Regions from separate parts of the Homo sapiens genome. Here all the other regions are linked to region 4. Evidence: fine-mapped expression QTL. A gene starts in region 4. Each other region holds a variant in brackets. All regions are shown on one strand. Distances are from middle to middle.

Evidence for each region. PIP is the estimated chance that this variant, and not a neighbour inherited with it, causes the effect.
Region 1: its variant is fine-mapped to the expression of ACOT13 in subcutaneous fat (GTEx, PIP 0.96).
Region 2: its variant is fine-mapped to the expression of ACOT13 in whole blood (INTERVAL, PIP above 0.99).
Region 3: its variant is fine-mapped to the expression of ACOT13 in atrial appendage (GTEx, PIP above 0.99).

The regions. Positions count from the first base shown.
Region 1 is chr6:24,688,224-24,696,330 of GRCh38, forward strand. The region is part of intron 1 of ACOT13 (acyl-CoA thioesterase 13); the gene reads left to right. LOC124901278 (a long non-coding RNA gene) reads right to left here and starts at 7,548. Exons shown (of 2, transcript XR_007059508.1): 1 at 7,121-7,548; 2 at 1,484-6,522. The variant C/T (reference allele first, on the strand shown) is at 4,624.
Region 2 is chr6:24,715,536-24,723,642 of GRCh38, forward strand. C6orf62 (chromosome 6 open reading frame 62) reads right to left here and starts at 3,619. Exons shown (of 5, transcript NM_030939.5): 1 at 3,005-3,619; 2 at 613-789. The coding sequence starts at 3,133. RefSeq lists enhancers at 4,300-5,093, 5,393-6,142, 5,888-6,681, 6,273-6,322, 6,373-6,462 and a silencer at 4,663-4,832. The variant CA/C (reference allele first, on the strand shown) is at 3,620.
Region 3 is chr6:24,581,064-24,589,170 of GRCh38, forward strand. KIAA0319 reads right to left here. Exons shown (of 21, transcript NM_014809.4): 4 at 7,530-7,722; 5 at 2,541-2,639; 6 at 1,186-1,283. Among named protein-coding and RNA genes, the nearest start is that of KIAA0319, 61 kb to the right of the region's middle. The variant A/G (reference allele first, on the strand shown) is at 3,075.
Region 4 is chr6:24,663,410-24,671,516 of GRCh38, forward strand. ACOT13 (acyl-CoA thioesterase 13) reads left to right here and starts at 3,668. Exons shown (of 3, transcript NM_018473.4): 1 at 3,668-3,935. The coding sequence starts at 3,855. TDP2 (tyrosyl-DNA phosphodiesterase 2) reads right to left here and starts at 3,490. Exons shown (of 7, transcript NM_016614.3): 1 at 3,289-3,490; 2 at 3,117-3,202. The coding sequence starts at 3,453. LOC124901279 (a long non-coding RNA gene) reads right to left here. Exons shown (of 2, transcript XR_007059509.1): 1 at 7,240-8,107; 2 at 5,708-6,529. RefSeq lists enhancers at 2,536-3,208, 3,209-3,880, 3,412-3,706.

The DNA of each region.
Region 1 (8,107 bases), 25 kb after region 4:
GCAGCATTATTTGTGATATCAAAAGTGGGAAATAGCTGGGCATGGTGGCTCATGCCTGTAATCCCAACACTTTAGGAGGTGAAGGCAGTAGGATAGCTTGAGCCCAGGAGTTTGAGACCAGCCTAGGCAACAAAATGAGATCCCATCTCTACAAAAAAATAAAAAAATTAACCAGGTGTGGTGGTGTGTGCCTGTGGCCCCAGCTGTGCAGGAGGCTAAGGTGAGAGGAACCCTTGAGCCCAGGAGGTCGAGGCTGCAGTGAGCTATGATCATGCCACTGCACTCCAGCCTGGACAACAAAGTGAGACCCTGTCTCAAAAAAAAAAAAAAAAAAAATTGTGTGAGGGGAAATAACCTAAATGTCCAACCATGGGAGAATTAGTAAAAGAAATCACAGCAACTGCATGTGACTGAGTCCTGTGTTACTATAAGTCACATCTTAAAAATGACTTACTAACAGGAGCATGTCATTAAATGATGTGCACCTTAAAAACTTAGAAATTTCAATTGTTTATTTTTAAAAACATCTACATAGCACTATGTGTCAGGCACTATGCACTTTGTTCATCTGAACTCATCTTTTTATGGCGAGAGATACAATAAAAGTCAAAATACAACGGTCTGGAATTTCACCATATGAATTGGTGTTAAAATCTGATAGGTAAAAAGAACTGTAGAGACAGACTGTAATAGGTAAGTAGGCACAAAAGACATAAATAGGCTGTTCACAGAAAAAAGGCAATAAACATTAAAGGATGCTTAAAAGCACTGTGAGTCTGGCTAATGCAAATTAAAACCATGAGATACTATGTTTTGCTTGTCAGAGTGTAAAAATTAAGGTAATATGCATCTTTGAACCTAGGAGGTGGAGGCTACAGTGAGCTGAGATTGTGCCACTGCACTCCAGCCTGGGCAACGAGAAAAAGACTCCGTCTCAAAAAAAAAACAAACTTTAAAATATATACTCTTAATACCCAGCTATCTAATTTTGTCAGTCTGTCATATACAAATAAAGCATCTTTGTGATGGTAAAAAAAATATAGAAATAACACATTTTAAGAAATAGTTTGATAAATTGTAGTATATTCATAGTAGGGAATACCACACAGCTATTGAAAGAGATCTATATACATTGGGCTGGAGGCTGCGCATGGTGGCGTGCCTTCTCCTTTTGGGTCACTTAAGCCCAGGAGTTTGAGTCCAGCCTGGGCAAAATAGAGAGACCCCATCTCTAAAAAAATTAAAAATAAATAAATTGAGCTAGAGAAATGACTGTGATACATTGGGAAGAGAAAAATGAAAGCTGCCAAGTAATGTATATAATATGATCCCATTTTTGTAATTGAATAAAAGGCAAGAAAAACACCCTTTAAGAAAATTTTGTATACCCTGTGTATATATGAGTAAGCCTAGGGAATGGTATAGAATGATATTCAGCACCGAAAGAGTAGTAGGTAGGAAATTGTACTTCTATGCTGCTTTATATATGTAAAATGAATGTTTTTATTTTTATAATTAAAAATCTAATAAAAACAGTAAGTTAGATGGCGCAGAGATAGGATTGAAGGAATCAGCATACAATTAGTGAAGTAATGAACTCAAGAGTTATTCATATTTTAGAGGAAAGGAATGTGGCATAAACTCACAGCAAATATAAGTATTTTATAAAATTAATTAATTTTAGCAGTAGTGAATGGATGACCAATTTCAAGAGAAATGATGAATACATTTTCTCTGCCATGGAACATAGTCAAGATTTAGTTCTTTCTATGTAGATCCTCTGAGCTACTGCTGAATTAAAAACAGCACTAAGAAAAAACTGTAGTTTTTACTTGGCCATCCTAGGAGTTCCAGGACTTTGTAGCATACAAAGTGAACAGAGATGATTTAAACTTCTTTGTGCCTGTTTTGTTTTGTATGACTAATGGGCTGTTCCCCTGGCCTTGATTTGCCAGATTTGCATTCCTTCAGAGCATCATCCCCTCCTGGGAACTACCGTACTAGATTCCAAACTGAAGCTCAATTGCAAAAATTCTACACAATTTGCGCTTTCCCTCTTTAAAGGAGAACTGGAAGTGTGAACAAGCATTTCCCAAATCCTCAATCTATGGAAGACAGGATAAGAAAGGCTCCTTCCCTGTCAGCCCCCTTTTCCCAGGTTCAAGGCAGTAGAGAACCTGTGTATCAGAGAAGTCTTGCCAATAAGATCCATGTGATAGAGGCCTTCAGAGCACCCACCTTTATAGGCATTCCAGAATGATTCAATAAAATCTGCCACTTACCAGCCTTTGGGGAAGAAAAATATAGTGATTTCTTTTTTAATCATTAAACTTTGTTTTAGTGGGATAGTAATTGTTTTTATTCTTTTGTAGCATATCTGTCACCACCACCACTATCTCAGTGAACAAAAAGAGTGTTACTTAAGCTTAGCTAACTAACCTTCAGGGAATATTTAATTTAATTCCTGTTTGCTCTTCCCTAGGGCTTTGTTTTGCTTCCCATGGCATTAGTTTGCCAACTCTTGTTATTTTTGGCCTTCTCTTATAACCCTTGCTGTTTTGTACACTCCCTGAGGATTAGGGCAACATCGTACTCACCTTTGGATCCTCTACCCTTGCCCCATTTGCCTGCCATTTTCACTTATCCTTCAAAGTCCTTTGCAGGTGACACCTGCTATCTCTGAGAAGGCTTCCCTGGCAGCCCCAAATGTCTTCCTCTGATCTACTTCTACACCTTGACTAACTTTTGTTATAGAACTTTCTGTATATTATTGAAAATATCTGCTGATTTGTTTGTCTTCCCTCTATACTTTTTCCTTGGGAGCCAAGTCCATATGCTTAATAACCATTTGTCAAAGGGAACTTTAGTGCCTAGTGGAAGGTGCCCAGTTGAATGCCTTTTACATAGAAGATTCTCCCCATAGTTTGTTCAGTTAGTTGCTGAAGCCACTAAATATTGGGCATATTGTTATAGAATGCTCCTTGTTGACCTTCAGGTTTCAGTGTATTCATTCACTCAACAAATATTTGAGTGCCTACTATGTGCCTACACCCTTACTGAGCCAGAGACATACATTCCTTTAGGAATGTATTTAGCTACTAAAACATTCCTAGTCTAGGTACTGGAGATACATCAGTGAACACAACTGACAAAAACGCCTGCACGCAATGGAAGTTCTATTTTAGTGGAGCAAATCAAACACTAAACAAAATAGGTAAAGAGAATATATAGTATGTTAGATGGTGATAATTGCTATAAAGGAAAATAAAGGTGGAAGATAGAGAGTATTGGTGCAGGAGAACTTAAATCCACCCCCCACCCTGCCCCAAGATGTGTATTCCTGTAAGTTCTTTTTTTAAGAATTCAATTTTAAATCTTATCTGGAAAGATATCACTGAAACAGTGACGTTTCAATAAAGACCTGAGAAAGTCATGAATACTGAAGGAGGAGAGTGTTCCAGGAAGGGGAACAGAAGGTGTAAAGGCCCTCAGACTTTCCATTGCTGTGCTTTCCATTGTTTGAGGGCCCCATTAGAGAGGGTTTTAAGCAGATGAGTAACATAATTTGACTTCTACAGCTGCTCTTTGACTTACGATGAGGTCGCATTGGGATAAGCCCATCATAAATTGAGATACTTTCAACTTAACAATAGTTTCATCTGAACATAAAGTCAAGGATCATGCTGAAGGCATATCACTTTTGCACTGTTGTTTTCTGTCAAGCAGTCTATATTTTCAAAGGAGCATTCTTGTAGCTACTATTGAGACTAAACATGGGGATGGTGGCAAGGGCAGAAATAGGGAGATAAATTGGAAGTCAGTTGCAACAGCTCAGGAGAGAAATATATCCTATATCCTTCTGAGTGAGTCCAGTATCAAGTCTGGTCTTTGAACGACTAGTTAACTCTAAGACTTAAGAGCCAGCAAAGGAGACTGGGGAGTGGCTGGGAGAGTAGGAGGAAAACCAGGAGGAGGTGGTGTCATGGGAGTTAAGGGAAGGCTAGGAAAAGTTCACGACGTCACCAAATGCTGAGAGGTCACTTAAGGGAAAGAGAGGCTGCCAAGGGTCCTTTGAGTTTTGTAGTTAGGTCATAGTTGACCTCGGCAATAGAAATAATTTTAAGAAAATTCATGCCAAACTATACAAACCAAAGTTTCTGTTTGATAATAGTTTTTATAATAAGGATGCAAATTAAAGTGGTGTTGTTTTGGGGACAGGGTCTCACTCTGTCAGCCAAGCTGTAGTGCAGTGGCACGATCACAGCTTACTGTAACCTTGACCTCTTGGGCTCAAGCGATCCTCCCCACCCCAGCTTCCCTCGGAGCTGGGACTGCAGGCACATGCCACCATGCCTGGCTAATTTTAAAAAATTTTTCTAGAGTTGGGGTCTTGCTGTGTTGCCCAGGCTGGTCTCAAACTCCTGGGCTCAAGCAATCCTCCCACCTCAGTCTCCCAAAATTAAAATGTTTTGATCACCTGTGATATACCAGGCCTTGTCCTAATTTGAATTTTAATCTTAATTTTTACAAAACCCTATAAGGGCAGTACAGTACATTATCTCTATCAATGGGGAAACCTCAGTTCAGGGTCTTGCCTAAGTCTGCTTCCAGAGCCAGTACTCT[C/T]AACCATTAAGCGGAAGCCACCTGTGTAATGAAGCTACTGAAACATACATTATAAAGCAGAAATGCTGGACTGATAACAGCAATATGGTTGAACCATGGTACTTTTATAGCATCTACCTTTCTAGAGCCCCTTGAACATAAATGTCATCTGTGTTTGTTGCTGTTGCTACCCCATCACACTGCCACATCCTGTCTTTTTACCTCCTTTCCTGCTTATATGAAGGTGCATTCATACACTGTCCTTAGACACACCTCCTGTCATCTGCAGTGTCACACACAAAGTTAGCAACATCCATGGTCAGGGAAAATTGCTTGAAAACAGCCTTATTCACAAATATACACATACAAAATTGTCATCCATTAAGATTGTCTGTTTTTCTTTGTGCTTCTGTAGACAGTCTTCTTTTGGGGGTGGCTCACGTGTTTATGTACACAGATTTTCTCATACCATATGTCACACTCCTGTGCTTGAGGCCCATTACAGACACCCTTACTGAGCCAGAGACATACATTCCTTTATCTGTTTAGCAGAGGCAGTGGAGGCAGTGGTGGTGAGCTGCATAGCAGCCAGCAGCAGTTACAGTGATGGCAGTGGCTTGTTTATCCCACTGCTCAGCAGAATGCAACCCTTTTAAAAAAAGACCAGAATGATCTGAGATGCCAAGGCTTAAAGAGAATTCTTGGTTCTCAGCTTCATAAAGGACCATCTCAGTGATGAATAACAGCATCTTCACTGCTGTTATTAGGCAGCCCTTCTCCCTATCTATCTTTGCTGAAAAAGTGAGGAAAGGAGAGACTCTGTGTCATGTGGAGTGTCTCTTTGTGATGAATTGTATCTCAGATGGGAGAGGGAGGGTGAGGGGCTATGGCAACCTGAGTCTTTTTTTTTTTTTTTGAGACGGAGTCTCACTCTGTCGCCTAGGCTGGAGTGCAGTGGTGCGAACTCGGCTAACCTCCACTTCCACCTCCCAGGCTCAAGGGATTCTCCTGCCTCAGCCTCCCAAGTAGTTGGGATTATACGTGTGCCCCATCATGCTTGGCTGATTTTTGTATTTTTAGTAGATACAGGGTTTCACCATGTTGGCCAGGCTGGTCTTGAACTACTGACCTCAAGTGATCTGCCTGCCTCGGCCTCCCAAAGTGCTGGGATTACACAGACGAAGTTGCATAAACTCATATGAATGCATGAAGTGCAAGGAAGAGACAGCACGATATAAGGCCATATATAAAAGGGACAGATTATTGTATATGTGTGTGTACATGTAAGAATTGTTATGATATACTGAGGAGCCCATTGTGGCAAATAGTGCTGAGCCATAAAAGTTCTTGCCAACCTACTGCAATTGTCCAACCTGCAGGATCCTGGGACTGAACACATCTGGACAGTTCTCTGTATTGTTAGGCCATGGCAGGTAAATTTTTGACCCCTTGACATCATAAAAGCCTCCATACCATCTTCACCAAGACACCTAAGGAATCAGAACCCAGTTGTCTGTAGCAGTCCAGGTGATATTTGAGGGTAGGCTGTTTTGCATAATGGTTAAACCTGAGACATCCTAGTTAAACTTTTCGACAGTTTCTCATCTGTAAAATGGAGACAATAGTATTCACTTCAAACATTGGCAGCACTGAGACAGCACATGTCAAATTGCTCAGCATGGTCTCTAACATGGAGTTAGCTATGTTGATATAACTGAATAAACAAGTGTGTGCCCTACAGCCCATCTTTACCAAGGCTGAGATGTTTTTTTCACAAGGTTCTCTCCCTACTCCCCTTCCTCATCAGAAAGAAGTTAGCTTTGCATTGGCCTCTTCCCCAGCAAGACTACTTATTAGCTCTGGGAGGGTGGGCAGGACATTCCTTCATCATCTTCCGTTGGTTTAATTCTCTTATTTGACCTGAGGAGACAAGAATTGAGAACATATAAAGGCATTTATATTGCCATATCAGGCTGCCCAGTAAAAAATTCTCTCTATTCCAATGTAAATTTTAAAACAATTTTATTAGTATGTCCTTTGGCCTTTCAAGTTGGGGGGAAAAATCAAAACCAGTATTCTGTACTAGAAAAATCTAACTGACATTTGTCTTACATTTTGTCATCCCAGCCAAAGTTAGGTAATCAAATGGAACTTTAAGAACTAAGCTTTACTGAACAAACTGTGCCTTAAAATACACTTAAACTGAGGCGCGGTGGCTCATGCCTGTAATCCCAGCATTTTGGGAGGCCGAGGTGGGTGGATCACCTGAGGTCAAGAGTTCAAGACCAACCTGGCTAACATGGCAAAACCCCATCTCTACTAAAAATACAAAAATTAGCCAGGCATGGTGGCACGCACCTGTAGTCCCATCTACTCAGGAGGCTGAGGCAGGAGAATCACTTGAACCTGGGATGCAGAGGTCGCAGTGAGCCGAGATTACACCACTGCACTCCAGCCTGGGTGACAGAGCGAGACTCTGTCTCAAAAAACAAAAACAAAAACAACACATTAAAACTACCTTTGCTGTCTACAAGCCGCTCGTATTTAGTTCTATTTCTTCAACTGCCTGGCTTTTTCCCTTATCTTCACCTGGATAACTCCTGCCTGTTCTTCAAGACTCAGATGTCGTTCTCCAGGAAGCCTTTCCTAATGTCTTTTCCCTGGAAATATACATTTTTAAAAGTTAGATATCTTTACTCCAAGAAACCTGTATTTATTCTGTCTACAACAGTTTCTTCCTCTGCAGTTTTTGTACTTGTCTCTTCCTTTAGACACTGAACCCGCTAAGAGCAGGGATTAAACTTCATTCATTTTTTACATTGCCAATGCCTGCTATAAAGAATCACATAAATGTGTGAATGAGGTTAAGTTTACACCTTATTCCTGCTCGGTGTGTATTATTTAGTTTATGAGGACATCTTGTGGCTAGATCATTTATTGCTATAAACAGACGATCATAGGCCAGGCGCGGTGGCTCACGACTCTAATCCCAGCACTTTGGGAGGCCAAGGTGGGTGGATCACCTGAGGTCAGGAGTTCGAGACCAGCATGGTGAAACCTCATCTCTCCTAAAAATACAAAAATTAGCTGGGTGTGGTGGCATGTGCCTGTAATCCCAGCTACTTGGGAGGCTGAGGCGGGAGGATTGCTTGAACCTGGAGGGCAGAGGTTGCAGTGAGCCGAGATCAAGCCACTGCACTCCAGCCTCAGCAACAGAAAAGGACTTCATCTCAAAACAAAAAACAAACAAAAAAACAAAAAACAAAAAACCCAACAACAAAAATCCTGTTCTAAAATTTATTTTTGACATTGATTTACCTGTTTTGCAAAACATGACATAATATTGTTTAGGATGTTTTATATCGCGTGGTTCTGTTTTCCTTCAGGGCCTTCAACAATAAAACCACTAAATAGGTGGTTTGTGAAACTCTCAAATGTCTTCCTGGTGGGAGTCATACCTAGAGGTTACTCATATATAGTTAGTGATTGGGAGATGTGAAGGTGG
Region 2 (8,107 bases), 52 kb after region 4:
ACTTAAATTATTAAAAACAGTTGGCTACTGGCAGGGTGCAGTGGCTCACACCTGTAATCTCAGCACTTTGGGAGGCCAAGGCAGGAGGATCACTTGAGGTCAGGAGTTCCAGACCAGCCTAGCCAACATGGCAAAACCCCATCTCTACTAAAAACACAAAAAATTAGCCAGGCATGGTGGCGCACAACTGTAGTCCCAGCTACTCGGGAGGCTAAGGCAGGAGAATCATTTGAATGCGCGAGGGCAGAGGTTGCAGTGAGCCAAGATCATGCCACTGCACTCTAGCCTCAGCGAAAGAGCAAGACTTTGTCTCAAAAAAAAAAAAAAAAAAAAAAGTCCGAGATCATCAACACCTAACACAGATTAAAGAAATCCCTTTATATACTTCATCCACATAAGAATGGTCTGGCGTAAAAAAACGTGTTTTTCTAATCCTATAAACACAATGCTTTAAAGTCATGATCCCAGTTATCAACATGGCACAAAGACAAATTTACCTGAAGAGACTGGTCACTATCATAACTATCCACTTTAAGGGGGGTTCGGGGGGCGGGGAAATGCAAGGTTAATCCACAGAAACTTTATCAAGTCAAGACTTAAGGCAGAACTTACCCTTCTCATAGACTGATATCGAGGAGCATGGAGCTGTACCACATCCTTCTGTAAAAGCTCTAGGGAACTTTCCAAGGAATAGCTGGAATCTCGCACACCTTTCAGGATATTTTCTTCATAATTATTTGTCATGACTGGTATAACCTCAGACACTTCAAAAAGTGCTGACTTTTTCTTCTAGAAGAAAAGAAAATGGTGTATTAACCCACAGGGAGCACAGCCTTTTAACACTCAGTTCATATTACAATGTCATGTAACATTAACTCCACAAAATTCTTAACTGTCTGCAGTAACTTATACACTGAAAACACATTTTCAGATAGGTAATTCCTTCTGTTCTTCCCCTACCTCCCCCTCCAACCATACATGTACAAACTGTCATTAGAATGTTTAATGCTTGAGTTTTATAGCATAATGGTATCCATAGCACTATTTTGGACAATACTTCTTAAAATTAAAAATCTCACCAGTTTTAAAACAACGCTATTCAGACAAATGAATAGTTTTATTCCTTATATGGGCCAATTTCCATTACTTTCTCAATATTACATTATCAAAACCATCAATATTTCTGGTTTTTCTTTTTTTTTTTTGAGATGGAGTCTCACTGTGTTGCCCAGGCTAGAGGGCAGTGGCACCATCTTGGCTCACTTGCAACCTCTGCCTCCTGGGTTCGAGGGGATCTCCTGCCTCAGCCTCTCGAGTAGCTGGGATTACAGGCCTGCGCCACCACACCTGGCTAATTTTTGTATTTTCAGTAGAGACAGGGTTTCACCATTTGGCCAGGCTGGCCTTGAACTCCTGACCTCAAGTGATCCGCCTGCCTCAGCCTCCCAAAGTGCTGGGATTACAGCCGTGAGCCACTGCACCCAGCCAAAACCATCAATATTTGAAAGACTAAAAAGAAGCACACCAAGTTCTCTTTTAATACTACTCAAGACCAAGTACGCATCACTAAACTACTTTTTAAAATTCTGTACTATTAAGTATATATCATGAATTATTCAGGGCAACTGCATGGACACTGTCCATTCACAGAATAAAACCAGATTATCGTTGGTGTTAAAGAATTAAGATGGTGCAATTTGGGGCAATATATAGATTAAATACAAAGATATGGTCTCACTACTTATTATCTTGGATTTATTTAAAGAGCATACACTGTATCATCTTCAACTAAAATCCAATCTCATCAATTTTGAGTCAGCTTGTCAACAAAACAAAAGTGGAGATGTAAGTCCTTGATACCACCCAATCTTGGGACAGTCACTTCAAAAATTACTTAAAAATCACTTCACAATGCTATACTTCAGCAGCTAAGAATGTTCTTAAATACAAATAACCTTTTAGGAGTTAAGAGTTGGGGCTGTGCGTGGCAGCTCCTGCCTGTAATCCCAGCACTTTAAAATGCCATGACAGGAGGATCACTTTAGCCCAGGAGTTCAAGACTAGCCTGGGCAATACAGTGAGGCCTGTCTCAGCAACAAAAATAATAAGAGTTAAACAGTAGGGGGAAACCTGGAAAACTTCCAGATACTTAATAGATACCACACTAAGATTGTATTTCTGATCTGAAATTAGCTAACAATTTAAGCACCAAAATCCAAGTAGCACTTCCTTACATTCATAACCTCATCTTTGGTCAAATAAGCCTTGCTGATAATTTAAGAAAATGTTCATTTTAAGTTGCAAAAAATACTGCTCTTATCATCCCATCCTTGACTACTCACAACTTACTGTTTGCTATTTAACTGCGGAACTAATTCTGATTAAGACCTCCACCGCCCCTAAAAATGAAACTTCCTCTAGGTCATTTTGAGTTTTTAAAAACTGTACTTCTATACAAGGCAAAATGAACTCTAAGTAAAAAAGAAAATCACACTTCTAAACACAAATTAACCATTTCAGTATTTAATTGCTCCTAAAAGGTGTATTCTACTTCATTAAATGTAAGAGAAAAGGTTACCTACATTACGCAGTTTAAGAAACAGGATAAACTTTAGCATATAAACAGTCTGATTACAATTTCACACTTTCAACCATCTTATTTATACTCTACATTAGATAATCTTTAAATTCCATCATAAGGTTTCCCATGTTAACTCCATATAAAATTTTGTAATCTTGCCCACCCCATGTCAACTCAGTGTATACTACTACTAAGCTTCAGACTCAAATTTATTTCCAAACCAAAGAACGCTCAAGGGTCTTTTCGCATGCTGCAACTGCTCAATTCACAGAATCACCCCTAAGGGTGAAAAAACAGAGCATACAAAGCAGACTTTTTTTCAACCACTCTTTAACCTAATATTCATAATAATTTAAGAGTAACAAATAATATACACTTACAAAAATTACTTGTGCTAATTCACCATTAAGAACTTTAAATTACCTTCTCCTTGAATACAAAGGCAATATACATCTTGAAGTCAAACTGGTCAGCTAGAGATTCTTTTTTCTTTCTAAGCTGAGCACGTAGTCTGTTCAGAGCTTGTTTCTTCCGGGAGTTTGGGTCCCCCATTTTGAAATACAGGTGGTACTAAAGCCTTTGGAAATTGTCACTAAACTATGGGCACTTTTTCTTAAGACTCAAGTACAACAGAAACAAGTCATTTTTTTTCCTGCTAATATGATTGATTAGCGAAAATCACGACTATAACCCAAAAACTGCACCTTCTGTCAATATTAGCAGACTGTCATATTACAGGGTCAAGAAACAAAAGCTGCTGTCCAGTCATGTTTGGACAATAACGTTTGGGGTCAGACGGGAAAAAGGGAGGAAAGAAAGGAAAGAAAGAGGAGAAAATAACTAACTTTCTGGAAAACACATTTGGCTTAACTGCCAAAATAAAGGCTTTGCGGAGAAATGAAAAGCCTATAATCAGGATTTAGGTGTGCAATAAAACACAGCTGACACCAGACCAATCCCTAAAATCCATCCGGATTTTCCCCCCTTTTTAGAAAAGGGATTAAGGAACAGGGAGGGGGAAGTGTGATCCTTGCTTTC[CA/C]AAAAAAAAAAAAAAAAAAACTCACCAAAACCAAAACCAAAACCAAACACCAAAACAGGGTAGGTGAATGAAACTGAAATATCCAATTAGATTTTACCCAGCCAGCTCCATGGCTGTAGTACCTAATTCTTAGTTATTTCAGATTTCACTATTGCTATGTATTGTCAGTGCTTGTTATTGATTACACTTGGTGGTGAGCATAGAGAAAAGTGCAAAATCGGTAGAGAAGGAAAGGGAGAGGTACAGGGTTTCCCTGCAATCAACTACAGTGTATACCGGGGGCGGGCAGCTGTGGCCCAAAGGAGCCATGAGAAAAAACAGCGGAGTCATTACCAACTTCCCCATCACCCACATTTTCACCCTCAGGCGGCTGCTAACGCTGCTGCCAAGGAGAATCATGACGGCAGAAGGAAAAGGGGTATATAATACGGTATTAATTATTCCGGCTCTGTGGTTAGACCTGATTAATGCCCGGGTTCCCAACACCCCCAGCCTGCAACTAGTCCTACATTCCCCAAGGGAGACTTCCCTGTGGATCTGCCCCCGTTCAAAATGGTGGGGAGTGCGATTTATCTTCTTGTGAGCATTGCCGAGGCAAAGGTGGCGGGTTCTTCTCCCAAATCCCAGGCGGTGCCCGGAGACCACCTGCCTTCCACCCCCGCAGGTCCCACCCCCACCCCTTGCCTTCAGCGGCAGCGACTCACTCGCACCACGGGAGACACAGGATCACTCAGGTTTTCACTCATTTCATCGTGGAAACAATTCCCGCCCGGGTGGAGTGGGCGGGAGAGGGTAAATGGGAAGGTTCAGTGGGGGAAAAAAAGAAAATAATTGTGTTAATATTACTTCTAAAGTAAGCCCACCCACCCTCCCCCCAAAAAATTAAGTTCCCGGATTAGCTCTCTCTCACGTTGAACAGACCATGTTTCCAGAGTTTGGATTGTTTAGGGTGGGGTCGTTAGTTGTTTCCCGAGGGGCAGGGGGTGGAATTGAGGCAGCTAGGGCGGGGTGGGTGACGGGGAAATCCCCTCCCTGTCCCCGCGGAGCCCGGGACTCACGGACCGACTCTAGGGCGGGGTTTGGGCCCTCTAGCCGCAGCCTGCGGGCGGAGCGGTGGCGGCGGCGGAAGAGGCGGCGGCGGCGGGGGCGCTGCTGGTAGCACGGGCAGGAGCCATGTCAAGAGAAAACCACCAGCCAACTGAGCCCCTCCATCCCCGCTGCAGTGCGCACCGTGACTGGACCGCCCGCGCTGCTGCCGCCGCTCAGCCCCCACCTGGGACCCATAGTCTGGCTCGGCGCCCTGGGCGGCAACGGAGGGGAAGGACGCGGAGACAGCGGCAACAGGGAGAGAAAAAGAAAAAGAGGAAAAACAAAGAGAAAGATGGGGAGTTGGATTGGTACTGGCGGCGGAGGGGGAAGGGAAAGGAAGCCCTGCGCTAAGGGTCAGCAAAGTAACCCCCCAAAATAAAGTTATTTCAGTTCAAGCATCTGCTCTTGAGTCTTTCTTCCCCCTACAGTCGGATTCCGGCTCTCAGGAAAGGTCGAGGAGACCCGGAGGGGGGAAAAGCCGAAGCGGTTGGTGAGCGTCCGCGGCAGTACTGCCTCGTTCCCCCCCCCGCCGGTGGCTGCAGAAGCGGCGAAGGCCTCGGGCGCCTCGCGGGTCCGGGGCAGAGTCGCGTTTGAGAAAAGAAGCGAGAACAAACAACTTAAAATGGCAGCGACGGCCGCTGCGTCACCCGCCTCTCACCGGCACCGCCCCGGTGTGACTGCGACTGCGCGCCCTGCGGGACCCCACCATTTGCGCAGAATCAAAGGGGGAGAAAGGATTGGAGGTGGGAAAGTTTTCAAGGTTACCGAAAAAGAGGAAAACAGATCAAGAGTACGGAATAGGGACAGGTCTTTTAAAAGTGGAGCCTTTGAATTTAACCTCTCCATTTCAGTAATCGCCCCTCAAAAGGGGAGTTTGAGAGTTGAGACTCCTCTCTCCTCCAGTATGGAGTATCCAAGGGGCGTGGAAAGGGGGGGGCTCCCCGCCACTCCTTCCGCCCCCCTTCTTCAGGAAGTCCCAGTCTCCTGAGTTGGCTCTTCGCCCCGCCCCGATGTCGTCATAAAAGCACGCCCTCAACCATCCTCAACAAAACACCCGGATGGAGTCGCACTTCCCGAGTCTCGTCAGCCTCTCAGAGTCAGGCTGGGCGCGTGACAGAGCCGAACTAGCGACCTGGGCGGGCCAAAACTGCGGAAGTCGGCGGAGAGTGGGCGAGGGTAGGGGCGGAGCAAAGAAGGAAAAGGAAAGTGTGTGTTGGAGATTGGAAGATTCTTATTTCGATTCTTATAATTAGTTAGTCCTGGGGGTCGGCCCCGCGGTATCCTGCGGCAACAAACCTAGAACTCAATTCGACACCTGGAATTTAAACGGCGTGCGGGAGCAGATGTCTCATGTTAGTGCTACTTGCCTCTGTCCCCACCCCGCCACGTGCGCAGGCAGGGAGGGCGGTCCTCAAGCTTCGAACAAGGTCAAAGACGTTGTTCAGACGTTGCTGCTGTGGCTTAGGAGAGGAGCAGCCCAGTCTGACTCGTGGATTTTTACCCACTGCTGTCAGAACACACTTTCTGTTAGAATCCCCCAAGACCTCAGACCTACAGCCTGCCCCTTAGGTGGTTCACTGTCTTCATCGAAACGTTTGCCGCCGAGTCGCACGTCCTTGGCACCAAAAAGCGTTGAGTCCATTTTTCAAAGCTCTAATGTGCTCTTTAAAACACAGTTATGTAAGTACTTAGCAAAGGTCAATACTCCACATAAGCAATGCTTATATACTCATTGGCTACTCTGAGATTTTAGAAGTCCATTGGGACCCCAATTACTACTTTTCACTTCGTGAAGTCAAAACAGATCAGCTGTAATAACATTATTTCAGCCATGAGCCAAAAGAATAACTGGTACCCACCCTTCAATATAAATTGTCCAGAACCAAAGGATGAGTCCTGAGATTTCCAAATAACTTCTAATCTCGGAAGATACAGCTTGCATTTTGCTAGTGCTTTGCTGATTTGTTTTCAAAATCATGTAACTATGGAAAGCTCACAGAGATAAAACAGAAAATGTCACGTAGTTTAGAGCATTGGTTTAAAAAAGAAAGATTTTTAAAAGTAAGCCGAGCATGGTGGCTCACGCCTGTAATGCCAGCACTTTGGGAGACCGAGGCAGGCGGATCACCTAAGGTCAGGAGTTCGAGACCAGCCTGGCCAACATGGTGAAACCTCGTCTCTACTGAAAATACTAAAATCAGCCTGGCTTGGTGGCAGGCGCCTGCAGTCCCAGCTACTCGAGAGGCTGAGGCAGGAGAATCGCTTGAACCCGGGAGGCGGAGATTGCAGTGAGCCGAGATCGCACCATTGCACTCCAGCCTGGGCAACAGAGTGAGACTCCGTCGGAAAAAAAAAAAAAAACAAACAAACATATGAGACATACAAGCCAGTATGATCTTCAGGTGATCCGCCTGCCTCAACCTCCCAAAGTGTTGGGATTACAGGCATGAGCCACCATTCCCAGCCGGCTTATATGTTCTTGACCTGGCCTTGACTTGTATCCATGATCAACTTCATGGAAGAATTTTTAAAATAACAGCTTTATTGAAATATAATTCACATACCGTATTTATCTACTTGAAGTGTACAATCCAATGGTTTTTAATATATTCAGTGTTGTGCAGCCATTACATTACCCCAAAAAGAAACCCTGTACCTATTAGCAGTCACTTCTCTTCTTTCTAGTTTATGTTCTGTCTATAGATTTGCCGTTTCTGAAATTTCATATAAATGAAATCATTTAATATGTGGTCTTTTGTGACTGGCTTCTTCACTTAGCATAATGTTTTCAAGGTTCATCCATGTTGTAGCATGTATCAGTACTTAATTCCTTTTTATTGTGGAATAATATGTATTGTATGAAATTCTATATTCATTCATCAGTTGATGGACATTTGAGTTGTCTCTGCCTTTTGGCTGTTATAAATAATGCTGCTATGAACATTTACTTAAAAGCTTTTGTATAGACGTATGTTTTTAATTCTCTTGGGCATATACTTAAGAGTGGAATTACTGGGATATATGTTAACTCTATCTTTAACCATGTGAGAAACTGCCAGATGTTTTCCAAGTCTGTTGCATCATTTTACATTTCCTCCAGCAGTGTATTCCAATTTCTCCACATTCTTGTTATTATGTCTTTTTTAGTATAACCATCCTAGTGGGTATGATGTATGTCATGGTGGTTTTGATTTTCCTTTCCCCAACGATTAATGATGTTGAGCATCTTTTCATGTGCTTATTGGCTGTTCTAATATCTTCTTTGGAGAAATGTCTATTCAGAACTTTTGCCCATTTTTATTTATCTACTTGTTTATTTATTTATTTTTTGAGACAGAGTCTCGCTATGTTGCCCAGGCTGAAGTGCAGTGGCATTATCTCAGCTCACTGCAACCTCC
Region 3 (8,107 bases), 82 kb before region 4:
CCACTACGTAGAAAAAGCTAAAATGTCCCAGAAGCCGCACTCCTAAAGTCAGCATAGAGAAGGGGCTCAGGAGACAGTCTCATTTGGATCTGTCAAGAGGCTGCCGCATGTTTGAAGCCTGAATTCTGGAGCACTAAAGATCACCTAGACAGGCCTTTAGCTTCGCTGCAGAGGGCTTCAAAGAGGCCTGGGTGAGATGGACCAGCAGAGGGCAGCAGTTCTCAAATGTGTGTATGGAACCATGCATTTTTACCACCTAGCTCTGGTGCATTGGTTGCCGGTGGTCTGGATGCCACACTTTGAGAAACACAGCTCCATGACATGAGGGTGATGCAAGTCTGTGTTGTACCATTAGCTGTGTGGTCCCAGGAGATGAAGTCAACATAATCATCTGGTAGGAGACTAGATCTCTAGTCGCTAAGTCGGTTTATATATCCTCCTAGGCCAGAAAGAGGGCATGTTTCTTGTGAGTGCTTGTATCATAGAACAATATGTGATAGGGCAAATTGTGACCTGGAATGGAATTATTGGCAACTCTAGAGATGTGCCGGACTGAGAACCAGAGATAAGTAGAATGTCCTTAACACTGCAAGGAGAGCAAGAGTTACAACAGGTTTTTAACCTCTCTGCAATGCTTGTGGGACAACCAGGCTCTTTTCCCCAAACTGAGATATACTAAGTAACCCAAATAAAGAAACGCCATCCAAAGCCTCTTAACCATCTGCCTGCCTACTTGCATGCCTGAAACTTTATTCATTCATATCCTACTTTTGATCTTACCATGAGAAAGATGTTTGCAGCTGGGCGTGGTGGCTCATGCCTGTAATCCCAACACTTTGGGAGGCCAAGGAGGGCAGATCACTTGAGGTCAGGAATTCAAAACCAGCCTGGCCAACATGGCGAAACCCCACCTCTACAAAAAATACAAAAAAATTAGCCGGGTGTGGTGACGTGCACCTGTAATCCCAGCTACTCAGGAGGCTGAGGCAGGAGAATCACTTGAACCCGGGAGGCAGAGGTTGCAGTGAGCTGTAATTGCGCTACTGCACTCCAGCCTGGGCAACAGAGCAAGACTCTGTCCCCAAAAAGAAGAAAGACGTTTGGGTTCAGTAGCTAAGAAGGTATTAACTGAGCTCTATGCCGTTACGCTGTGCTGTTAGACACAACCAGTCTCCAGTTACTTACTTGAGAGAGGTTAAGAGTTTGCTTGTGTCCTTGTTTTATTTCACCTTGGTAGTCTGTGGGGTGGCTTATTAAATTCCATTCATAGTTGTAGGTTGTTTCTGAGAGCAAAAAATAAATATGAGTAGTTATAAATTCTGAGAGGACACTAGATAACCTGGGCAGAGGGAAGATGACAGCCTTTAAACCACCAGTGCAGATTACCTTAGATATACTCAACTCAGCTTTCTTTTTTTTTTTTAACTTATATATATATTTTTTGTTTATTTGTTTTTATCCCCTCACTCTTGTTATCATCTTATGAACTTGACTTTCAACTATCAGCCAAGATAACATGTATCTTCTTAATGTAACATTTCTTTTTTTGTTATAAAAACATACGTCTTACAGGAAATTTTTAAAATGTATAAAGTTAAAAAAAAAAAAACCTCCCTAACTTAACCATTAGTATGTGATGAGTTTTTTCCTAGGGGGCTACATCTGACTATCCATATCAGTTTTAACATAGTATAATACATTGTGCTTTTCTCTTTTTAACAAAAGGCAAGGAGATTTCAATTCATTTGATCTGTTGTAGGGGTTTATTTAAGGACACAAAAACAGTATAAACATGTCTATGTTAAGATGAAACTGTCTCCCAGCTGCAGATATTAGTAGTTAAAATATAAGGTACCTCACCTCAAAGGATTAAAATGCAAATGCCAAATATTATCATCTCTGTGTATAAAATTTTGACCAATATGTGGTGGAGAAAAAAATGAATTAAGGAACTAACCTGAATGAGAAATAGTCAAACACCTTAAGAATGAGTTTACCTTAAAAACAATGCATTTGACAGGCCACAGGTCCCAGGTCAAATGCTTACTGAATGGTAGAGCACTGGACAAGTAGAAGAAAGAGCATTTTGAATAAATTTTTTTGAGCAGCTAGTGTGAGGCATCCTGAGAACCTGAGAGCCGTGATTGTCAATGCCACAGTATCTGCAAACAAACCTATGGGTGCACGCCACTTCCCTCTCATCCCGGTGGAATCTTCCCAGGTTCTATGGGTTATTACAGTTCAAGAACTGGTACGTGGCAGCCTCTCCTGATCTGCTTTGCATCATCAGAAATTTATGACTTTCCATCCTGACCAATTAAACGATATATACTGTATTTAATTTCCTAGATTCTTACTCCATTTGAAACTATTTCAACAAATGTTGATGCTTAAGAATAATCAAAGCCTTGTCCTCCACCTTTGTTTGTGACGTCGTGCAATACTGTGAAAAAGAATCGGCGTTGTAAATAGCCTGTAAGGACCTGCTGAAGAAAAACACCCCAGTTCCTAGTGGTCAGGGAGGAAGGTTAAACTCTCACCTACAGGTGGCGCTGGCGCAACAAAGGCCTTCAGTTCAACTTCATTGTCGGGTAAAGTTATAATTAGGTTATCTCCAGCCGATACCGTAAGTTCTTTCACTAAAAGTTAATTAGAAATAATACGTGCAATTATATAATATAATGTGTTACATTACTGCTCTACACTAGATCTGTTTTTGGTATCCATAAATTAAAATAACATATGCTTTTGTAATAGTTCTTCATAAGATTTTAGCTAAGGCACGTTTTTCCTCTGGCTAGAAATTGAACTGTACACTATATTATAGTACAGGGTTTTAAACCACAAATATGAGTTGGCACTGTGACAAAAATAATGATTCAAATTGACTGAGCAACGTATTGAGTGACAAGAGTTGCGTGAAACAGGTTTCATGCAACTGTGAATTGGGTCCATTTTCTCCCTTGCTATCAGCTTTTCTTGACGCCCTGGTGTGAGCTATTTTTAGTTATAAAAAGATTGAGTGTAATCCTAAGTGTTTCTGTCTCATTAGTCACACTCCACTCAGTTCTGAT[A/G]GTAGCCTCATGAATTACTGCTAATGGCCTTGTACTTGGAACCTTTCCAAGACAAAATCCAGTCACCCTCAATATAAAAAACCTATTTTAACTTAAGCAGCAGGAACATTAACTCTTATCAAAAGTGCTTAGCCACCAAGTAAGCATTCAGAACAATACTTGTTTACTTTCTCTGTAACCAGATTACATTGATATATTCATAAATTCTATCGGTTTGGCTCCATTGGACATTAGTTTCACTTGTAAAATATATTGCGATATGTCCAGATACTACACAGAGAAAAGCAAAGATTTAAAAAAAAAAAAAAAAAAAAAAAAGCTGAGTGCTCCAGAGGGATCAGCTGCAAGGAGATGTCAGACAGGTTGTTCATTTAATCCACTCCCCTCCTCTCAGTCCTCAGTCCCTCGAGTGCCTCCTAGATCAGCTGCAGAGGCTCTCAGTGGCTTTGCTGGCTCCTCTCTTGTCATTTTCACTAACTCTTTATCCTGAAAGTCAGCAACTGTAGACCTAGAAGGGACATTGATCCAAACCTATCATGTTATAGGTGGGGAAATTAAATCCTAGAAAAGCAAAGTTGTCCAAGGCTGTATGGTAATTAGCAATAGGTCCACCAATATTTAATTTAAATGTATTCATTTCAACAAACACTTATATACCGGATTAAACTGTGCCAGGCATTGCCCCAAGGGCTTTAAAATGATCAATTCATTTAATCCTCATTACAACTGTATGCAGTAGGTTCTATTAAAACCCAAAGATCCTGGGCCAAACTCCCAGGCCAGTTTCTTTTTCCGTATACTACACAGCTTCTCTCCCACTATTATCTTTCTCTCTATGGAAGCTCAGGCTCAAAGTAAATACAAAAGTTAGAGAGAGTAATCTCCAAAATACATGGCCCACAGAAAAGCTCAGGAAACATGACCCTTACGTCTAGCATATTCTAATAACTTCCTTATTGGAAAATCTAATGGAAGCTTTGCAATCCTCACCACAGCCTCTGCGACACATGGAGCTTTGATACGTCTTCCCTTTTGGAACTACAGGAGACCAGAACATGCCACCCCAAAATATGATTTGTGAAAGGGAAATAAATCTCGGGACCCCCAAATCACTAAGCCAAAGGGAAAAGTCAAGCTGGGAACTGTGTCAGGCAAACCCGCATCTCATTTTATTCCTAAACGAGATACCTACAAAGATTAAAAAAAAAAAAAGCTACATGCCTTCCTTATAATTTGCCCACAAGAAACTCCTTGTGGGCCTCAAGATCTTTGCCCTAAAACAGTTTTGTTGAATTTCACCCTGGCAATGTAAATCAATAGCTTATCTTCACAGGTGCAGGGGGTGGGGGAAAGAGCTCAGCCATCCCTCTGCTCACCTGAGACAAATGCATATCTAATTGTTTCCTCTGCCCTATTGTTTATGAAAAAATACAGATTCACTGAGCCAGACAAGGCATAAGTGACTATTCCTCTACCCCCTCTGGCAAGTAAATTGTGTATTCAGTGAAAGACTGATCAAAGACTCAAAAGAATGCAATATTTGTCTCTTATATACCTATGACCTGAAAGACCCCCTTCCAGTTGTCATGCCTTTCTGGACCAAACCAATGTACATCTCACACATACTGATTGATGTCTTATGTCTCCCTAAAATGTATAAAACCAAGGTGGCCAGGCACAGTGGCTCACACCTGTAATCCCAGTACTTTGGGAGGCTGAGGCAGGTGGATCACTTGAAGTCAGAAGTTCAAGACCAGGCTGGCCAACACGGAGAAACCCTGTCTCTACTAAAAATACAAAAATTAGCCGGGAATGGTCATGGGTGCCTGTAATCCCAGTTACTCAGGAAGCTGAGGCAGGAGAATCTCTTGAACCTCGGAGGCAGAGGTTGCAGTGAGCCAAGGTCACGCCACTGCACTCCAGCCTGGCCACGAAGCAAGACTCCGTCTCAAAACAAACAAAAAAAAACAAGCTGTACCCTGACCACCTTGGATACATGTCATCAGGACCTCCTGAGGCTGTGTCACTGGTGAGTCCTTAACCTTGGCAAAATAAACTTTCTAAATTGATTGAGACCTGTCTCAGATACTTTTGGTTCACAGACTGTAGGAAACTAGAATATGCCATTGCAACTATAACTCTTTTATACAAGGATTATTTTGAGCTGTGTTTTTTGTTTGTTTGTTTGTTTGTTTTGAAGAAACAGCAGACCAAGAGGAGCTCTGAAAACAGAGTAGAAGTTACTCCTTTGTAAGGGGAATTTATATCTATAAAGGAAATCTCCATTTGTAAGGGTCTCTCTCCTTCTATACCAGGAAGAGAAGGGTGACTACATTCCAAGAGATCCACATCCATAGAGAAGGTCCTGACAAATCTGCATAATGAACCTCACTCTTGCTTACTTCGTTTATTCTGGGCACCTTTGGCCACTTGCCTTCCCCACAATCCTCTTTCCTTGTTTTAGTTCAAGATGCTATATAAGCCAGAGTTCCAGGCTTATATAATATAAGCTTATATAATAAACCTCTCTGAGATTTCCTCATTTCCCTGGGCATCTCCCACGTATAGGTAAGATGTACATGTTATAAACTTGTTTTTTTTTTCTCTCTTGTTAATCTATCTTTTGTTACAGGGGCACTAGCCTAGAACTTAGAAGGGTAGATGGAAACTTATTCTATCCTCCTCCATAGAACTCTCTCCCTCTAGCTTTCCTCTTTATCTCCTACCTCTCTGGCACAACTACCCAATCAGTTTTGCAGGCTCCTTCTGCACTTCCAGCTCCTTATAGAACAATGTCCCCAAAGTTCCAGTCCTCAGGCCTCTCCTCAGCTAACCCCCCTCTCTCCCTGGATGATCTCCTATGTCCCCCGTGTCTGCAACTATCACCTCCACACCGATGACTCGTAATCCTTTATCTTCAGCCCAACTGCTCATCTAATTTTAGTTCTGTATTTTCATATGTCTTAGCGTCCTCTTCCTTCACATCCTTACATTCATTCAATCACTTATCAAATCTTTGTGACTCTGCTCCCTTCCTGTCTCCTAAATCTGGTTCCTTCCCTCCATCTCTGCAACCATTCACCATAGCCTTTTCATGGATCTTGTTGCCTCTAGTCAACTCCACACTATTTTCTTTTTTTTCCTTTTTTTTTGGTTTGAGACGGAATCTCACTCTGTCGCCCAGGCTGGACAGAATGCAGTGGCATGATCTCAGCTCACTGCAAGCTTTGCCTCCCGGGTTCATGCCATTCTCCTGCCTCAGCCTCCCAAGTAGCTGGGACTACAGGCGCCCACCACCACGTCTGGCTAATTTTTTGTATTTTTAGTAGAGATGGGGTTTCACTCTGTTAGCCAGGATGGTCTCGATCTCCTGACCTCATGATCCACCCACCTCGGCCTCCCAAAGTGCTGGGATTACAGGCGTGAGCCACCGTGCCTGGTCCCTTTTTATTCATTTTTTACTTTTTTCAAGACAGTCTTGCTCTGTTGCCCAGGCTGGAGTGCAGTGGAGCGATCTCAGCTAACTGCAACCTCTGCCTCCTGGGTTCAAGCAATTCTCCTGCCTCAACCTCCCAAGTAGCTGGGGTTACAGGTGTGTGCCACCACGCCCAGCTAATTTTTTTTGTATTTTTAGTAGAGATGGGGTTTCACCATGTTGGCCAGGCTGGTCTTGAACTCCTGACCTCATGATCTGCTCGCCTGGGCTTCCCAAAGGGCTGGAATTACAGGCGTGAGCCACCGGGCTCATCCCACACTATTTCTTAATACAAATCTGATCATTTTGCTTTCCTGCTTAAAACCATTCAGGGATTCTCTATACCCATCCAGGAAAGTGCAGAATCTTTAGCACAAAATACATGATCTTTCCAGTTCTTGTCCTGCTTACCACTCCAGTTCCAGCCATACTGAATCCCTTACAGTTCTTCCGAAATGTCCCGTGAGCTCTTGTACTTCTGTTTTCTTGCACAGGCAATGAATGAGAGATGATGGATGGGAAGCACTGAGCATATTGCCTGGCACTCTGTAAGTGCTCAGTAAATACAATGATCACGATTGTTATGAAACATGTTGCTCCCTCCACCTGAACAACAGACCAATGCCATTTTTGCTGGCTCACTCTATCCTAGCATCATCTCCTCTGGAAAGGCATCCCTGGACCCTGTTAGTGGATCAGGGTGCCCCTCTGCTCCCACAGCAGCCTCTCACAGCACTTACCATATTGTATCAGAACCACCTCTTTACCTGCCAGTCTCCTCTCCTGGACTATGGAGTCCCTGAGGGAAAAGACAATGTCTTATTCATCTTTTTATTCCCAGTATGCAGCACCGTTTCTGGCACATGATAGATGCTGAAAAATGTGCCTGGAGGGAATGAGTAAACTTTAAAAGTTGTCACCACCAAATTCTACAGCCTGTCTTCAGTACATTTCTTGAAATTGTATTTTTTAAAAGTTACCTGTCCTGGGAGCAGTGGTAGGAGATATGGGTAGCTCAGATGGGGTGGACTCAGAGGGGGCTGCGCTAGTGGGAGGTGTTGGGATGCTGTGCTCTGTACTCCCCGGGGTGACTGTGAGCACTGGGCTTTTCTCCACGGTGACTGAGCTGAGCTCCAGGCTTGCCGGAGGAAGACTATGGGAAGGCATTAGAACCTACGAGATCAATTACAAGGATAAATTGTTATTAAAAAAAAAACAGTCCAACTCTTCAAGCAACTCAATGTTACCAACCTTTTTCATAAATTAGCTTTGGTAATGTTTGAAAAACCATGAATAATATTGCAAAACTCTGGAACTCTAGACCATCTCTCTCAAGTACTCTCTTTGCTGTCTATTAGAAACATAAGGCAACTGTGGGTTGGACAATTAGTATAGGTGAACTCACACAAACACTCAAAGAATGAGAAAGTAATTATAGTAGCCCCTAAACTGACCAGTTCAATGGACTGAATGTTTCTGCCCCACACCTCCTTCCACCCCAAAAAATTCATTTGTTGAAATCCTAACCCTCAATGTGATAGTATTTGGAGGTAGGGCC
Region 4 (8,107 bases):
AGAGTCCATGCTCTTATTCACTATGCCATCCTTTCCTCCTCTGTTTCATTGTAATCCAATTCCATATTGATATAGTTTGGATGTTTGTCCCCTCCAAATCTCATGTTGAGATATAATCCGTAATGTTGGTAGTGGGGTCCAGTGGGAGGTGTTTGGGTCATGGAGGCAGATCCCTCATTAATGTCTTGGTGCTATCTTCACGATACTGAGTTCTTCTTGCAAGATCTGGTTGTTTAAAAGTATGTGGCACCACCCCACCCCCTTGCTCCTGCGCTCTCCATGTGATACCTGGGCTCCCCTTTCCCTTCTGCCATGATTGAAATCTTCCTGAGGCCCAGCAGAGGCTGGGGCCATGCTTCCAGTAGAGCCTGCAGAACTGTTAGCCAATTAAATCTCTTTTCTTTATAAATTACCCAGTCTCAGGTATTTATAGCAACACAAGAACCTAATACAAATATCTCTGCAATTTATGCAACACCCACAATATTTAATATTTAATGCAGCAAGAAAAACCAGGCAACTGTATTAAAAATTTCCTTTTGGAAAAATGAAAAGGGAAATAAACTCTAAAACGTTGCTGTACAGAAATACTAAGGGAACAGAAAGGGACTGGCAAACTTTAGGGGCATGATTTGTTGACTTCATTCCTAAGCAGAGGAGGAAGTGCTTTTGTCAGTATATCTGGTGTCTTAGGTTTTATGTGTTAGGCCAGTGCTCCTCAATTTTAAATCACCTGGAGATCTTGTCAAAATACAGATTCTGATTCAGTAGGTCTGGGTGAGACCTAAGATTCTGCATGTCTAACAAATTCCCGAGTAGCAGTGGCACGCTGCTGGTCCAGAGTCCACACTCTAAATAACAAGGCTCTGGGACACGGGCTTTCAATGCTGGCTCTGCATTAGAATTACCTGCACAGCTAATAAAAAAAAAAAAAAAAGCCAATAAGGAATAATGGGCCCCACTCAAGACTAATGAAATTAGAATCTCTGGTTTTTTTTTTAAATTCCCCAGATAATTCCAATATGCAGCTAAGATTCAGCATAGCTGTTTTAAGAGGATTTCCCTTGTCTCTCATCAGAGACACTGAAGATAGATTCTAATGTAGGGGACTAAATCACTTTAGTGTTCAATTTCAATTTTTGTTGATATCCCAGGAATTCACTCCAGAATTGAGATTCCTGCGCCATTCATTTAAGACAGCCAATGCCCTTGCTCAGCAGGGTTGAGTTTTTCTGGTCATAAAATCTTCCAATCAATTTTTTTTTCCCTTTCATTTTTGCTAAAGCCAACATCAAAAATCTAATCAGGTCACAGGCCTTAGAAACACGCTGAAGTTTGCCCCTTCCCCATTTTTCTCTCTTGAGCAAACTAAACTTTAAAACCTCACTCTCATTCATACTTGACCTGAGTTCTGAGAGACAAGAGACCACAGCCTAATCAACACCTTTGCTTGTTTTTGCCAATTTACCATTCCGGGGTAAGAGAATCCTAATAGCCATGACACCATTGATCAGCTTGATCCGCATCTTTTCTGAGGGCCTATTACAGGAAATCCACTTATTTTGTTACTATTTATTGGTTACAATATAGTCTGTTGCAACCAACAGACATTAACTCAGGTTGGTTTGACCAAAACAGGAGAATTTATAAGGAAACAAACATGTCACAGAGCCTGGTACAGAAATACAGCCATGTTTAAGGAAGGGCAGTTAAGGGCTTTCTCTCAATCCTACACTTCAACTTCCCTCTGCTTCATTGTCTCTCTGCAGACCTCTGTTCTCAGCTTCTCTGTACACAAAAAAAGATATGTATGAATCCTCACAGGTGCTAAGTTAACATGTTACAGTTCCAGCTCCATAGGAAGACTCAGACTTGACTCTCTTGGTCCTAATTCTGAAACCAAGGAGAGGATCTGACTGGCCAGTTTGAGCTAGGCAAACACCTCCTAGTCCAACTTGCTCTGGTTAGTAAAACGGGAGCCAGAGACAAATCACTGTGGGTGAGTAAACAATTCCCCAACAAGAGGCAAGACAGAGAAAGGAACCTAAAGAAAATATCTTATCACATCTGTAAGCCAGTGTAGCTGAAAAGACCAAAGGGAAAATAAAGTCTCCACTATGAACAGTCAATTTTACAGGTTGTACATATAGCTGGGAGAATTTTATACATTCAGTAAATATTTATTGGGAGCTTATTATGTGTCAAATGTTGTGTCAGACTTTGGGAAATTAACAATGTACAAAACAGATACTCCTTACTAGATGTGCAGTCTAGTAGGAGACATAAAATAATGAACAGCAATTATAATACGGACTAAGGTATTGTAACAGGGGTCATGCAGGATGCTATAAGAGTACCTAAAAGGGGACTCTTACCCAGACTTAGGACATCAGGAAAAGCTTCCTAGAGATAAATCATGTCTCAGCTTGGGGCTTTAAGACAAATATTAGCAAGGAAGGGAAAAGAAAAAAATTCCAGGCACAGGTAATAAAGATCTTTACGAAGTTTCAAAGACAGGAGAAAATGACCCGTTGGAAAAAAGTAAAAGTTTGATAGGCCTGGAACCTGGAAAGGCAGGTTCTAAGTTATGGAGCCAAATAGTAGAGGGCCTTGTAAGGCAGCTACACTTTTTAAGTGCAGGAACTGGAGAGGGGCACTGAAATAACAGGAGTAGGTGTGCATTAAAAAAAAATAACAACAACAACAAACCTGTTATTCTGGCCGGTCAGCCTAGGGCCTAGAATAAATAAACAATACAGGAAGCAAGGAGACTTCCAAGTTGCCATTTTTCGATAGAAGGTTTAGCCTTCGTTCATTTGTTTCAAACCTCTCGCTTACTTATTTCCTTTCATTTGAGTTAAACATTACATTTCCATCTTTTCCTCCCTGGACCCCAAATCACGTTCGAAGCGACAGTCTGGTGCAGTGTTAGATCCGCTGCTGGGGCGCAACTCCGCGCAGCAGCAGCAACGCAAGCCCTGCTCCTCTGGCTACGCAGCTTGGAGATCTGCCTCAGCATCGTCCGCCCAGCTCCACGGCAGGTCCCAGGACGCGCAGGGCTACCTGGTATCAAACTGCCTCCGTGCGGACTGGCTCCCGCTCCCCTCATCACTTACTAGGTCTTGGGCTCAGAGATGGTTTCAGGTCGGCGTTCCAAGGCGCTCTCCTCCACCGGAGGCTCGAAGTAGGAGTTCAGAGCCCTCTGAAAAACAAAGGCACAAGGGATGAGGTTTGTGCGCTCCACCGACCTAGGTAATGGAGCCGGAAGCGAGGACAGCGAAAGCGTACTTCCATCTCCCAGTCGTTCTCGGCCAGGAAGCACTGAGCCACTGCGGCATCGCAGCTTGCGACCGAGGCAAACTCCACACACAGAAGTCGCCGCTTTTTCACCTCAGGCTCGCCCTCTTCCTCCGCCGCCTCCCTCCCGCCCTCCAGGCAACTCCCCAACTCCATCTTCCTGCCGCCTCTGCACCGCCCCTTTAAGCGGAACAGGAGGCCAACGCGCGGCTCTGCGCAGGCGCCTGTGTCATGGCGCTCCCGCATCAACCGCCCGGCGGGGAAATGCGCTGCTCTCGGAAAACTGGTGCAGCTGCGCCGCAAGGGAGCCGCCGGGGCGGTGGGTGCGAAGCGCGCATGCGCGCTTCGTCACAAGGGTGCGAGGAAAGTCAGTGAGCAAATCGCGGACCACCGGGGCTGCCAGCTCGCCTGACTCCCGGCCTCTTGCGCTCCTAGGGGCGGAGAAGGGTGCGGGCTCTTCGCCCTTTGTGTCCTCCTTCTTTCACTAACTTCTGGACTTTCCAGCTCTTCCGAAGTTCGTTCTTGCGCAAAGCCCAAAGGCTGGAAAACCGTCCACGATGACCAGCATGACTCAGTCTCTGCGGGAGGTGATAAAGGCCATGACCAAGGCTCGCAATTTTGAGAGAGTTTTGGGAAAGGTATGGGAAAGGTAGGGGAGAAGCCGTGGCTTCTAATGAAGGAAAAGAAAGCACCGTGCTTGGTGCCGTTGTGAGCTTTGAATAATTATCTCTTGTTAGGTTGTGTTCTAGTACGCCTGTAAATTCACCTTAGTAATAATGATTATTACTTTAATGGAGCCCCTAAATATGCTGGGTCGAACGCGTAAGTTCTCTATCTAAACATAGATAAGTATGGTTATGACTCGTGGAGACAGTTCCAAGGCTGGGAGGGACTTTGGAGTTTGATCCTTCAACCAACAAACGTCTGCATTGCTCCAGAGAAGAGTAAGAGAAACCTCTGCATTTAAGGCACATTACAGTCTAATTCTCTAGGCTCTAGAAGATTAGAAGATAAATAATTGCAATAAGGTACAAAAGCCAAGTGCTTGGTAGAGTGGTGAACGAAGGGAGAAGTTGTTCCTCTGTAGTGGTTTGGGAAATTTCTCAAAGGCACCCAACTCCTGAAGAAGTAAGTTAGCCCTTGGAGGAAGACTGAGTGCTTTTCTGAGACCAGCACTCACAAAGCCCGAAGGTGTTTGTTTGTTTTTGTTTTTTTAGGATGAGGTTTCGCCCTTGTTGCCTAGGCTGGAGTGCAATGGCGCGATCTCGGCTCACTGCAACCTCCACCTCCCTGGTTCAAACAATTCTCCTGCCTCACTCAGCCTCCCGAGTGGCTGGGATTACAGGCATGCGCCACCATGCCCAGCTAATATTGTACTTTTAGTAGAGACAGGGTTTCTCCATGTTGGTCAGGCTGCTCTCGAACTCCCGACCTCAGGTGAAACGCCTGCCTCCGCCTCCCAAAGTGCTGGGATTACTGGTGTGAGCCGCCACGCCAGACCTTGAAGGTGTTTGTTGTTGTTGTTGTTTTGAGATGGAGTCTTGCTCTGTTGCCCATGCGGGAGTGCAGTGACACGATCTCGGCTCACTGCAACCTCCGCCTCCTGGGTTCAAGTGATTCTCATGCCTCAGCCTTCCAAGTAGCTGGGATGATTACAGGCATGCGCCACCAAGCCTGGCTAATTCTTTATTTTTATTAGAGACAGGGTTTCATCATGTTGGTCAGGCTGGTCTCAAACTGCTGACCTCAGGTGATCCACCTGCCTTGGCCTCCCGAAGTGCTGGGATTACAGGCATGAGCCACCATGCCCCGCCAAAAGCAGGGATTTACTGAAAATGAAAGGACACTCCTGTGTTTGGGGTGTGGAGCAGCAGCTCAGGGGCCCTAATACCCCATTGAAGTCTCCTATTGGCCACTTGGTACTCATCTCATGTAAATGAAGTGGTGACCCACAATTGGCTGTGAAAAGCAACCAATGAAAGGCTAAAGTGAAGTTACAAAGTTGCCCTTATATGCAAACGAAGACGTGGCGTGCAATCAGATGGTGAAGTTACATAGTTACACTCCTATGGGAAGATCTGATTGGTTGCAGAAAGAATAATTTTTTTTAAGGGATAACTTACTTCTTAGCGTAATTTTGCTTTTTGCAACCAATCAGAGGTACTTTCAATTTCCCATCTGCCACACAGAAAAGGTGGGGGTTTGGAAAGGGAGAAGCCTCTGGTTCTTTTGTTACTTGGTGTGGGAAGTTAGGGTTTTACTTTCAATTTAGTTCTAGGAAGTCAGCGTGAAACAGCCCTAGGTTCCCTGCCTCCAGATCCGATTCTCCTGCCTCGCTTGTAAGAAAATCATGCTCCATAAGAAGCATTTATAACTAAACCTTGTGAACCCCAAAAATTTGAGACAGGTATCAGTTAATTTAGAAAGTTTATTTTGCCAAGGTTGAGGATGCGCACGCAGTGACACAGCCTCAGGAGGTCCTGACAACATGTGCCCAAGGTGGTCAGAGCACAGCTTGGTTTTATGCGTTTTAGGGACATATAAGACATCAATCAATATATGTAAAATGAACACTGGTTGGGTTCGGAAAGGCGGGACAACTTGAAGCGGGAAGGGGGCTTCCAGGTCACGGGTAGGTGGGAGACAAATGGTTGCATTCTTTTGAGTTTCTGATTTACCTTTCCTAAGGAGGCAGTCAGATACACATTTATCTCAATGAGCAGAGGGATGACTTTGAATAGAATGGGAGGCAAGTTTGTCTTAAGTAGTTCCTAGCTTGAATTTTCCTTTTAACTTAGTGATTTGGGGGCCCAAGATATTTTCCTTTACATTTGCCCCCTTTTCTTTTTTTTAAAAAAAATTTTTTTTTGGAGAAAGCATTTTAGAAGAAAAATGAGTCTTTGGTCCCAGATTTCATCTGATCGCTCATGCTAGGATGGTTTATTCCTAGACAGGTAAGTCCCAAGTTATTAGGAAAGCTAATTTTTAGAAGGCTGTGAACTCCCATGTCTTGTGAAGAGAAAATAGGGGGAGGAAGGGTGAAAAACAACAAACAAAAGAACAATCCTGGAAAATATACATAGGCCACGTTATTCTGAAGTCCATACATCAGTAGGCAGGTATGAAAGTGGCTTATGCGTGTAAATAGGTTGCTGTTATTTTCTTCTGAAGTTTAAGTTGTCTAGCTTCAGTTTGCAGGGCTTTACAAAAGCACAGCTGTTTTCAGTGACTCCTAATTAGGAAAAAAAAGGAAAAGAAAAGAAAAAAATTAAAAATATTATTTTGGAGACTTGTAGCCAGGAAAAATTAGAATTCAGCCTAAACTGTAGAAAATAATAAAAATTGAAAAAATTAGGCAAGACTAGTATCTAACAACAAGTGGACTGTAAGTTTTGAAACAATTTTTCTCTCTCCAGTTTTCCATTTTTACTAAAGACAAATCATGGTAGGACTGATTTGCTTTATTATATTTGACCAGATTATTTATATAAAGTGTAGCAAGAATAATTATTTTTCACATAGGCTTTTTAAAATTGGCTTTGAAGGAACTTTGTTCCATAGAAGGAATCTCAGATAAGATTCTTTTTAAAGCCAAGCTCAGCCATGGATTTGTACCATCAAATACCTATGAGTAGGGTGAATTTCCTCTTTTTGATGTTCCATGATAAACCAGGGGCTCCTGGACCTGTCAGAAAATGACATTCTTTACTTAGCACATATCAGAAACCCTGTACAGGGACTTTGTAAAGTGTGAGGCCAGTTTTCCCAAGGGCTTTTATTGGCTCCATAAGTCAGGTTTGATTACTTAAAGGAAAGTACACCTTTCCACTCAAAGCCTTGGTAAAATAATCAGTTTCTCCAACTGTGTCCTGTTACAAATGAAAACAGATTCTTACTGCACTTATGCAAATAACTGTATTGGCACAAGTTAAGAATACTCACAAATAGTTTACAAATTCTGGAGAAATCAGGTAGAGAGAAACAAATATGCTCCAAATTTTGTTGATTGGAGTATACTAAATTGTTAAAAGCTGTCAATAGCTCAAAAGAAAAGTTTCAAGGCTCTGAAAAACAAAGCAAAAGATCAGCAATGTTTAAGCAAAAAGTCAAAAAGATTAGTTCAGTCCCCTTAGTTAATTCCTATTCTGCTTGATATTCATGAGCATTTTAGCTCTCCATGAGTTCTGAAAGTTTTTCCTCTATTCTCATGTAACAATCTCCAAAGTTAATGGAGACCTGCATTCAAGAGGAAACAACAGGTGCTGGAGAGGATGTGGAGGAATAGTTACGTTTTTACACTGTTGGTGGGAGTGTAAACTAGGTCAACCATTGTGGAAGACACTGTGGTGATTCCTCAAGGATCTAGAACTAGAAATACCATTTGACCCAGCCATCCCATTACTGGGTATATACCCAAAGGATTATAAATCATGCTACGATAAAGACACATGCACATGTATGTTTATTGCAGCACTATTCACCATAGCAAAGACTTGGAACCAACCCAAATGTCCATCAATGATAGACTGGATTAAGAAAAAATGACACATATACACGATGGAATACTATGCAGCCATAAAAAAGGATGAGTTCATGTCCTTTGTAGGGACATGGATGAAGCTGGAAACCATCATTCTCAGCAAACTATCACAAGGACAGAAAACCAAATACCGCATGTTCTCACTCATAGTTGGGAATTGAACAATGAGAACATTTGGACACAGGGCAGGGAACATCACACACTGGGGCCTGTCGTGGGGTGGGGGGATGGGGGAGGGATAGCACTAGGAGAAATACCTAATGTAAATGA